Regions from separate parts of the Homo sapiens genome. Here region 1 is linked to region 2. Evidence: fine-mapped expression QTL. A gene starts in region 2. The other region holds a variant in brackets. All regions are shown on one strand. Distances are from middle to middle.

Region 1 (5,489 bases), 86 kb before region 2:
CTAAGGGAGGCACCCCACCCAGTTCTGGAGCCCAGCGGCGGAAGTGATGTTTAGACTGAGTCCAGAAAGGGACAAGAGGGGGCAAGGCAAGGAGGGAAGATTGCAAAAGTCATTAGCAAGTGGCTCTTTGTGGCTGGAGGGAGGGCTAAGCTGGGAGCTGGGCAATGGCCAGAGGTGTACGATAGGCAGCAGTCAAGCTCCAAAGGGCTCTCCATACCACTGAAAGGATTAATTCTGAGGGCAGCGGACAGCCACTGATGTTTCCTATACAGAAGAAAGATATAAGAATGTTCAAGTGTGGAAAATGGATTGAAGGATTACGGTTCAGAGCCAAGGATTTCAGCTCAGTGAGGGCTTCCTCACTTAAGAATTGCTTCATGGCTACATTTCACAGTGTACCATTGATATCTGGCTCTCTGACCCCTACCCTCCCAGAAATGGCTTCCATTTTGACGCACAGAGGTTAAACGACACACTCAGGCTCCTGTGAGACGCTTATGTCACAGCCAGCATTAGGCACGATCTGGGGCCTCTGTGACCCTTCTCCTTTGGTCTTCCTATCAACCCTGTTATAACCAGTTCACAACTGAGGACACTGAATGTCAGGAAAAGAAGGGATTCACCCAAAGTCACAGGGCTTAATAGTCACAGAGAATCTATTAAGTGGTGGAGGCAGATCTGAACTCAGGTCCTCGGACTCCAAGTCCAGTGCTCTCTCTGTTCTATACCATGTTGTCTCATGCAAAGGATGGTAAATGCTGTGAAATAAACAAGAAGGAAGAGGTTGAGAAATCAGGGAAGGCTCTGTGGAGGCACTGAATGGGAATGTGAGGTGGGCCTTGAAGGCCAGATAGATTCTGTGTAAGCAGTGAGGGGTAGTAATGAGGTGTGAGGGAGAGAAGGGACAAGATGAGTGAAAAGTCAGAATGAAGACCAGGCATGACACACCCATGGGGCATTTATATAAATCTAACATGAGAGAAGCTTAATCTAAATCTCAGGAGGTTAAGACACATGGCAGATGGAATGGGAAGTCTAACATATATAGAATCCGAGTCCCACAGGAGAGGAGAGGAGGCAATATTTTAAGAGTGAATAGTTAACAATTATCACAGACACATACTATAAAACTATGCAAAGATATTCCATTCTTCTTTTGTCAACCAGACAGAAAATGCAAATCACTACAAAGAATAAATAATTAGCCTTACAGCAGACTTCTCAGTTGCAACCATAAAAGCCAGAGAACAATGGAATAAAAGTTTCAAGTATGCTGAGAGAAAAATAACTGTGTTTAACGAAACTACCTTTCAAGGAAAAGAATAAAATAAAAAATCTTCAGAAAATAATTTGAGCTGGTTGATTTCTAAAGGAAATTCTAAAGGATGTACTTCAGGAAGAAAAAAAAAAATTATCCTGGATAGAAAATCAGAGATACCGGAACAAATGATGAGCACAGATACTGCAGGTCAACCTAAAAAAGTTGACTTACAAGACAATAATAAAAATGGATAATTTGAGGTTTTGAAAAAGATGGAACTATAATACTAGACAATATCTTAGCAGTAGGGAGTAGGAGTTTCAAAATTTTGTTTAGGGTGAGAGTAAAGATATATAGAGTCAGCCTTCCCTGTCTGTGGGCTCTGCATCTGCAGATTCAACCAAGTACAGATCAAAAATATTCAAAAACAGGCCAGGCATGGTGGCTCACACATGTAATTCCAGCACTTTGGGAGGCTGAGGTGGGCAGATCACTTGAGGTCAGGAGATTGAGACCAGCCTGGCCAACATGGTGAAACCCTGTCTTTACAAAAAAAATACAAAAATTAGCCAGGCATGGTGTGCAGGCCTGTTGTCCCAGCTACTCAGGAGGCTAAGGCAGGAGAATCGCTTGAACCCGGGAGGTAGAGATTGCAGTGAGCCAAGATCACACCACTGCACCCCAGCCTGGGCGACAGAGTAAGACTCTGTCTCAAAAAAAGAAAAAAAAAGAAAAAGAAAAAAAATTCAAAACCAAAAATGAATAAAAAACAAGAAAACAATTTTAAAAATACAAATAAAAAGAATACATTACAACTATTTACATAGCATTTACATCATATTAGGTATTATAAGTCATCTAGAAATAATTTAAAGTGTAGAAGGATATGCATATGTTTTATGCAAATGTTATGCCATTTTACATAAAGAACTTAAGCATCTGCATATCTTGGTATCCACAGGGGTTCCTGGAACCAATCCCCCAAAGAAACCAAGGGACAGCCGCATTAACTTTAGAATCTGCTAAGTGTACATATTAAATCGTCTAAATTAACCACTGGAAGATAGACATTGAGAGTGGTAAAATCTCCAAATAACAGAGGTGGAAAAATGGAATGAGAAAAAAAAACGTTCTCAATGAAGCATGAGAAAAGCAAATAACTGAAAAATAAATACACTGTGACATTTATATTAGGTTGAAAAGCTCACAATGCTAAACATTTGGAGATTAATATATAGCAATAAATGAAGCAAAGAAATAATGGACAAAATATTCAGCATAGGGATCATATCTGTTAAAAAGAGGTTACAATGGAGAGAAGCACACAGGTGAGGGCTTTAGGATTTGGTGCTGCTCCCACTTAAGCTTTCTTTATGCCCTTCACATATGTATATACATATATGGTAAGTATTCAATATTTAATATTAAAAATATTTTAATATTGTTGTTCTGCAGCTTCTCACACATTACTGCTATGGCATTCATTCAAAATTGATCAATGTCCTTTGGAGGCAGTGCAGGTTACCACCTAGAACAACAGAGTCACTAATCAGTTTTCGATTTCCATGCTGGTTGTCTGTGTCCCTGAAGTATGGTTCTCAGCCTTGGCTGATGCCCAGGTCCCACTTAGAGCGAGTTTGGTTAATTCATCTGGGTTACATCAAGCAGTGGTATGGTTGAAAACATTCTCAGTTGATTCTAACATGTAGCCAGGTTTGAGACTCTGGGCTAGAAAGTCAGTAGTCTTGCAAGCCAGGAATGGCAGAGATATAAAAAGTGACTCTCACATTCTAGAAACTCCCTCTATATTCAGAGCAATACTTAGAG[A/G]TCTGAACATAGAGTTTTATAAACCTATTCTAGAGGGGATTATAGGATAGGTCCTATGAAGGTCCCTGCCAGACAGGAAAGAGAAGGAAAGAGCGTTTTCTAGGCTAGAGCTGGGAAGAGGCAGAGAAGAACTGGAGGAGCTGTCCTTAATCCCTCTTCTGCAACCCACACCCCAGAAGGTCTGAGAAGGTAGCTGAAAGCAGAATGTCCTATACCCTAGTTTCTGTTGGAGAGTCTAGCAATTACCCTGCACCTGCATAATGTAGCCACAGCTAAGCAGAAATGGTATGTGTAGAGAGAGAAGTCTAAAGATGGTGATTCCCAGCCTCACCAAGTTCCAGTGAGGAATGGAGGGGATCCAGGAGTTCTGCCACATTCTAGAGTGGGATTTGGAGCGCACAGGTAGAGCAACCCTAATATACGGCTGGGGGAGTGGAAACTAGATCAGCCTTCCGAGAGCCATCAGCCCCCGTCGTTAAATAAAGTACACATGCACCCTCTAGCCCAACAACTCCACTGCTGAAAGACACTGCACAGGTCCATAAGGATCCAATGCAAGGAACTAAATGATTAATTGTAGACAATCTGGGTTTCCATGACTTGGGGAGTAGATCAGTGAAATTAGGCGGATACACCCAGTGGAGTACTGTACAGCAGTTGGAAATAATACAACAGAGCCACACACAGCATGCATCTAATGGCATGATGCTCAGTGAGCTAAGTAAACACAAATGATATTTAAAGCACCTCACGATTCATGTAAATATAGGTAAGTATGGGGTAAGGGGAGTAGATTCTGGGAAGATGGCTACAGGGGCAGCAACATCATTTTAAAATCTCTCCAAATCTCCAAATAAGAACAGGCAGTGCAACTAAAGAACAAAACCAGAAGTCCATAGACTAGGTTTATAACAAATTAGGTCATGAGATATCCCCACGAGCCTTGCTATGGTCTGTGCCCATAAAAATTCATATGTTGACATTTAGTCACCAACATAATGGTATTAACAGAAGGGGTCTTTAGGAGATAATTAAGTAGTGAGGATGGAGGGCTCATGGATGGAATTAGGCTCCTTATGAAGCAGCAGGTTCATTCTCTTCTACCTTTATGCTGTGAGGGAACACAGCATTCAAGGTGCCATCTTCAAAGCGAGGACTGAGCCCTCACAGACACCAAACCTGCCTATGCCTTGATCTTCGACTTCCCAGCCTCCAGAACTGTAAGGCAATAAATTTCTGTTCTTTATCAATTATCCAGTTTCGGCCAGGCACGGCGGCTCACGCCTGTAATCCCAGCACTCTGGGAGGCCGAGGCAGGCGGATTGCCGGAAGTCAGGAGTTCGAGACAATCCTGGCCAACATGGCAAAACGCCGTCTCTACTAAAAATACAAAAATTAGCCAGGTGTGGTGGCACACGCCTGTAATCCCAGCTACTCGGGAGGCTGAAGCAGGAGAATCGCTTGAACCCGGGAGAGGAGGTTGCAGTGAGCTGAGATCACGCCACTGCACTCCAACCTGGGTGACAGAGTGAGACTCCATCTCAATAAATAAATAAACAAAACAAACAAAATTATCCAGTCTCAGGTATTCTGCTATAACAGCTCAAATGGGCCGAGAAAACCCCAAATACAAATGGTGGTAGGAATAAACCACTAACACAAGACCTTCATGATACCAATGTCTATACAGGAGAAAGAAGAAATAAACAACAAGGGTGGCTAATGGATCCAAGAGCAGTCAACAGAATTCACTGGAAAGCAGGAGACCAACTGAGAGTGGCAGCTGAAAATAGGGAGAGTTCTGCCCTCCCCAACCCTGGGTGAGTGCAAGGAGCCCACCATGAGACCCTCCAGGGCCACCTGCCACCACTGTGAGTGAAATCAAAATTGAGCAAAATACAGGCAAATAGAGGAAAGAAAGAGAAAGTATAGACCCATGGGGAAGGGACAGAGCCTGGAGACTTCAGAAAGCAAGCTGCCCTGTTTGGGAACACTACACAAAAACTACACAAGCAGCAGCTCCGTGGAGTTAGAAATACTTTCCTGGCCCTCGTTTAACTGCAAAAATTCAGGAAAACTAATTTCATGTAAAACTTAGCCACAGAAAATCATCGAGGTCAAATCACATATAACATCATCATGTGAAAAAGTAAGGAGCAGAACAACTTCCCTATAAGGTGATATATACACAATGTATACATAAGAACCCTTTCAACAGATACATGTGAAGCCTATCAGAATGGCTGCTTATTGGAGAGGAAAGGGAATGAAAATGAAGGAGAATAAGTAAATTAATAAGAAATAGCCTGTGTCTTCTGATGATAATAAGCCATGGGGGTGGGCAGGGGAGGGATGGCTGATGAACTCAACTCTCAGCACTTAGGACTTCTTAAAAGGTAGA
Region 2 (5,220 bases):
CACTAACAGTTTCTTGCCTTTCCTATCATTCTGACTCATTCCCGAGTTCTTTCTCAAGACAGTTTCAAGAGCCTGGACATCAACTGGGGCTGGGGTCTCACCAGCATCTGGAGAGCCTCCTGAGTCCTCTGGCAACATCAAGGGAAGGAAGAGAAGATTCCTCCGTGGAGCCCGTCCCCGCACAATTCCCGCCCTGGGACACGGCACGGCTGCTTTGAACCAAGCCTCACCCTTGGCACTCGAGTTGGCTGTGTTCCCTATGATCCATCTACCCACCGTCTCCAGGACAAGCACTGCCCCATTCACTGAAATCAGCACATAGTAATGCTGGATAAGTGAATGAATTGGTGAATGAGTGAACAAGTGAATGTGTGCACAGCTCACTTGTTTAATTGGAGTTCCGAGTTTGGAAGTGAATGAACAGAAAAAAAATCAGTCACCAGACCCCAGATCCAAGTCATGAGATGTAGCAGCTGGATGACCTTGGATGTAGCGCATCACTTCTCTGAGCCTCACCTTCCTTATCTGCAATGAAATCAGGGAGCTTGCCCTGCCACCCCGCAGGGACACGGGAGCAGCAAGGGCTGGGTAGGCACCCAGTCAACGTAAAGCTCACAAGTTGTTGCCACCCTTCATCACGACCCCAGGACATGAAGCAGATACTGTATATCCTGGACCCTCCGGCCGAAAGCTCTTCCGGCTCCTGGGCAGGGCCAGCCCCCAGGCTCCCCAGTGGCATGCCCAGACAGTTCCAAAAGGCAGGACCGAAGCAAAGAGCCAGGATCCAAGCGGGATCCTGACCTGGGATACACACATTCCTCGGCGTGCTTTCCTGCTTTTCCATTCTTTATAAATCAGAAAATTAATTACCAGAAAAAGGATCTTCTGCACCAGAAACTCAAATGAGTTTAATGTATAATTTATACATGAAAATGTAGATGTCTATGTGTGACAAATCTCTGTATAAATATTTTTGCAGTTAAATTTTTAGGCATCTGTCTCCCTCCAAGAAGAGTCATCATGCAGGCATCATGAGTCCCCAGGGCTCAGGCCGGGTGGTGCTGGCAAGGTGGCTTGTCATTTCACCAGTTAGTGATGCAGCTGCCAGCGCAGCCCAGCCCGGAAGGCCCCAGCTTTGGCAGCAGCCACCTGCAGCCAAGTCACAGCTCTGCCCCAACCTCCCCGGCAGGGTCCTGCTGTGTCTTGTTCAAAACAAGGATTTAACACCATGTGCCACCTCTGTGCTGGGCCCAGGGGAGGAAGATAGAGTGGAGGAAGCCCTCACACACCAGTGCCTTTGAGCCCATCGGAGAGCCAGGCAAGCAGATGAGGAATGACAATGACAGGGTGGCAAATGCCAGGGCAGGCGTGGGTCCTACATGCCAGGCAGCCACAGAGGAGCAAGTACTGCCCTATGCAAGAGCATCCCTGAACACTCCAGGGCAGGGGGGCCACTCCTGATGGAGTCTGTCAGGTGGATGAAGGCAGAAGGACATTCCCAACGGTGAGAGCCACTCATGTGAAGACCAGAGACAAGAGCAAGCATGTCCAGATGATGTGGGTGTGGCCTGTGGCACCTGGTGGGGACTGGCCAGCAGTGAGCCTGGCATGGAGAAGAGCCAGATCACCAAGGGAGCTGTGTGCTCAGCCCTGAAACAGGACTTTGTTCTGGATTGAAAACTTCAAAGGGTGAAGGCACATAAGCCTTGCAAACTGTAAAGTGCATGCAGCATCCACAGAAACTACAATCCCTGGCAGGATTGAGTCCTGTGCCAAGCCAAGCCTCAGCAGCCTGCCAGTTTCTGGCCCAGGGGTCCTGGATGATTTCCTTCACCCACAGGTGTACCAGTCCATAGGATTGACTGGCACATGACTTTGCATACAAAACACCTGAAATGTAGGCTAGGCCCTTGCTTCTCATCTGCAGTTGCTACGACCATTTGGGGATGGTCATTCATTGTGTGGGACGTTCCCTGATGCCCTCTCTCCGGATGCCCAGTGGGGCTCCAGAGACAACCCACAGCATCCTCCTGCCGGAGGATCTGGAGGGAGAGGCACAGTCCACAGAAGGGGCCCTAGCCAAGAACTGGTGTGCCACGCATGCCAAGGAGAAAGGAACTGCATATCTACACCACACTCTGGCCCAGAACCAATGGCAAGGGTCACAAATATGCCGTCGTTCACCCTACCATTGCCAACCACGTCGGAGCACAATCTGAAGTCTCAATGGTGTCTTCCCAGAACTCGGGCCTTCCACAACAAGACAAAGCAAGTCCCAACTCCCCGACTCCAATAAGGGCCGCTGGACAGCCTCTGCAGCAGCCTCGAAGCCCTAAGGTCCTGGCCAAAAGGCAAAAGCACAGGCTCATGGGACCTGATGCCCACAAGACAAGGGTTTCAAGCCCCCAGCCCTCATCACCCCAGTGCCCATCTTGAAGAAGGGCACAGCCTGGCCCTGCTAATTTTTCTACCTCCTGGGGGACTGGTGGCCTACCTCTCTGTGACTCCCAGCCACGTACCTCGCTTGGTCTTTGGAGGCCTGAGACCCTCGTCCTGGGCCAGGGCCTCCCAAGTCTCCCGCTCCTTCCAGCGCCTCAGCTGCTCCTCCCGCATTTTGTAGAAGAGGATGTGCTTCTGCACATCGCTGAGCTCGGCAAGGAGCTCGGGGTCGATGTACATGTCGTGCAGGATCTGCTGCAGCATGATGCCACCTGGGATGCACGCACCAGAAGGGCAGCCAGCAGGGGAAGCAGGGCCAGGCAGAACGCCCGAGGGGCTGCTCTGCACTACGGACTGCTCAATCCGGGGCCACTCTCGGTGCCCCTTCTCTGTGCAGCATTGTCAGTTGGCCTCAGCTTGCAGCCAGCGACGAACTCATCTCCTCTACCCAGGACAGCAAAAGAGGCCAGGCAACAGGACCCAAAGGGGCAGGTGGGACTCTGCAAGGGGGAGCAACCACCAGGAGCAATCTAGTCCTTCTCCTGGGTCACCAAGCACGGCATCCCAGGAGAGCCCATGTCTTGGCATCACCTGGGGTTCTGAGACAATGGGAAGGGCCCAAGCCTCCAGCTCAGCCAGGAAATGCCCAGTCCCAGCCCTGCCTGGGCTGGTAGGTGTCGAGTGATCTGTTAGTGGAAGGTAACAATGACACCAGCTATATCAATGACACTGCCCCGGCCAGCTGGGAACTGATCTCTCCTCTGCAGATAAGAGGAGGAGAAGGAGGCAGACTTGCCTACTAAATTCCATGTCTTTTCAGCCAATTTCAAACACAGACCAGAGGAGCCTGCCAGAAGCTGCTGGGCCCCTCAGCCCTCTCAGCCCCTCTCTCTGCGGGTTCCTTCGCTGCCAACTTTCTTCCTTTCCAGAACATTTGGCATTCTGAGATGATGCGTTTAAAACTCTGCCTTGGGGGAGGAAAGATTTTTCCTCCTATCTGTGTTACAGCCAAGAAAGAAAACAAAATGGAATCAGTAGAGACAACTGGAGGGGATTTTATCTTGGAATTCCAGGACAGAAAGGAAGCAGACATCCTTTCCCTTTGGCCTATATATAATGAGATCCTGCAGCCATGCGTGGCTGACAGATAAACCCTCCAGGGGCCAGTTTTAATGGTCGTTGTTAATCTTGTTTGTTGCAGATGCCTGGAGTTGACCAAAAAGAAAGAAGATGAAACTGGCTCTTCTCTGTGCCCTGATCAGAAGCACACTGGAATGGCGGGATGTTGCCTTCTGCTGGGAGGGAAGCCACCCTCTCTTTGGTGTGTGAAGGTGGGTAGAAGCTGCCGTTGCTGAGATCTTTAGGGTGAAAGCTCACCCTAAATATGTGCTCAGAGCAAATCACAGATGCCTTCTTATTGGGACAAGGATATTGAAGCTCAGAGAAAGTAAGTGGCTTGCCTATGGCTTCCTAATGGACAAGTCACTGTATTGGGACTCCCCCGTTTTGAAATTTGACATCCACTAGCAACTATGAATCTGTTGATGGTTTGAAAACATAACCCAACCAAGGGAAAACAAACGAACCAACAGGATTTGGCACTGTGGCTTGGTTGGATTGGTGACCTTCCTGTCCCCTTCCTTGCCCATGAGGGTGGAAGGTGGATCAGGTACCCAAGAGTGATGGAAGAGGGGTGGAGAGTTGGCATTCTTCCCCCTCTGCAAGGTTAACACAACAGGAAGATGGACTAAGCAGATTCAGATGAGCTGTAAGCCCATAGGGTCAAAGCTCCTGCTCAGCTAGGCAATGTCCAGGTCACAGGAGTGGAGTCAGACGCCCCACCCCTCCCCACCCAGGTCCAGCTAGCTGGTCCCAGTGTGCCCAGACCTTCCTAGAGCCGCCACAGGACTCGCCTGTCCGCTGCAGAGCTGTGGCCCTGGACTCCCATCCACCCACCTCAGGGCTTGCACCGACTCCCCCACCGGGAGTCCTGGCTCCCCTCAGTTTCTGAGACCGGGGGTCTTCCCTAGCCTCTGCCCAGCTATTCTCTTTCTCCCCCTCGCCGTGGCTGGTGGGAGACCCCCGAGTCCAAAGAGGAGACAAGGGGAGGAAGGCCCCCAGGGTCTGGGCTCCTGCGGGCAGCTTCTTTTTGTCTTTCCCGGGCCGCCAGATACCTACGACCACAAGAGGGCACGGGGCAGGGACAACGCTGTAGGGAGCAGCAGGAATGGGCCGGCTGGAGGCGGGCGAGAACGGTGATGGTGCCACCCTGGAGGACCGTCGGGAGAGTGAGGCAGCCGGACTAGAATGACCCCCGCTAGCGCCCATTTTGTGCGATAGAGGGGATCTCGCTGGGGGCGGGGTGATCCCTGGCACTCCCAGGTCAGCGGGGCAGGAGGCCAAGAGACACCGAATCGCGGGGACGTGAGCGTCACCCAGCCGCGGATGGCAGCCCGGGAGCGGGTGAAGTCCGGTTTCCGGGAAGACGTGCTTCGGGGCCCGCCTATCAATTCTCCTGGGCCTGGCGGGGTGGAGGGCGGGGGACTCGGCCAGGCCTGGGGCGCTCCCTGGCGGCCGCACGGGGAGGCACTCGGCTTCGCAACCTGGGTGTGCCTGGCCTGGGTGTGCGGGAGGACCCCAGAGGACCCCAGAGGACCCCAGGAGCAGGGGTCGCGCCGAAGAGCAGAGTCCGCGGCTGGAAACCAGGCAGGGGAGCCACGGAGTAGTCACACAGGTTTTCTGCCGCCTTTCAACTGGTCTTATTTTGCTTTCATTTTTCAC

Which allele goes with the higher level. Alleles are on the strand shown, and positions count from the first base shown. SD is a standard deviation of normalised expression in the study named.
For the expression in lung of the gene that starts at base 3,133 in region 2, allele A in region 1 goes with a higher level than allele G (small effect, 0.37 SD a copy in GTEx).

What was found. PIP is the estimated chance that this variant, and not a neighbour inherited with it, causes the effect.
Region 1: its variant is fine-mapped to the expression of SH2D4B in lung (TOPMed, PIP 0.91).

What each region holds. Positions count from the first base shown.
Region 1 is chr10:80,622,076-80,627,564 of GRCh38, reverse strand. The region is part of intron 6 of SH2D4B (SH2 domain containing 4B); the gene reads right to left. Among named protein-coding and RNA genes, the nearest start is that of LINC02655, 25 kb to the left of the region's middle. The variant A/G (reference allele first, on the strand shown) is at 3,089.
Region 2 is chr10:80,535,815-80,541,034 of GRCh38, reverse strand. It overlaps SH2D4B (SH2 domain containing 4B), which reads right to left and starts at 3,133. Exons shown (of 8, transcript NM_001388272.1): 1 at 2,520-3,133. The coding sequence starts at 2,703. TSPAN14-AS1 (TSPAN14 antisense RNA 1) reads left to right here and starts at 5,093. Exons shown (of 2, transcript NR_120661.1): 1 at 5,093-5,220. RefSeq lists enhancers at 73-252, 1,290-1,429, 4,736-4,835 and a silencer at 4,906-5,095.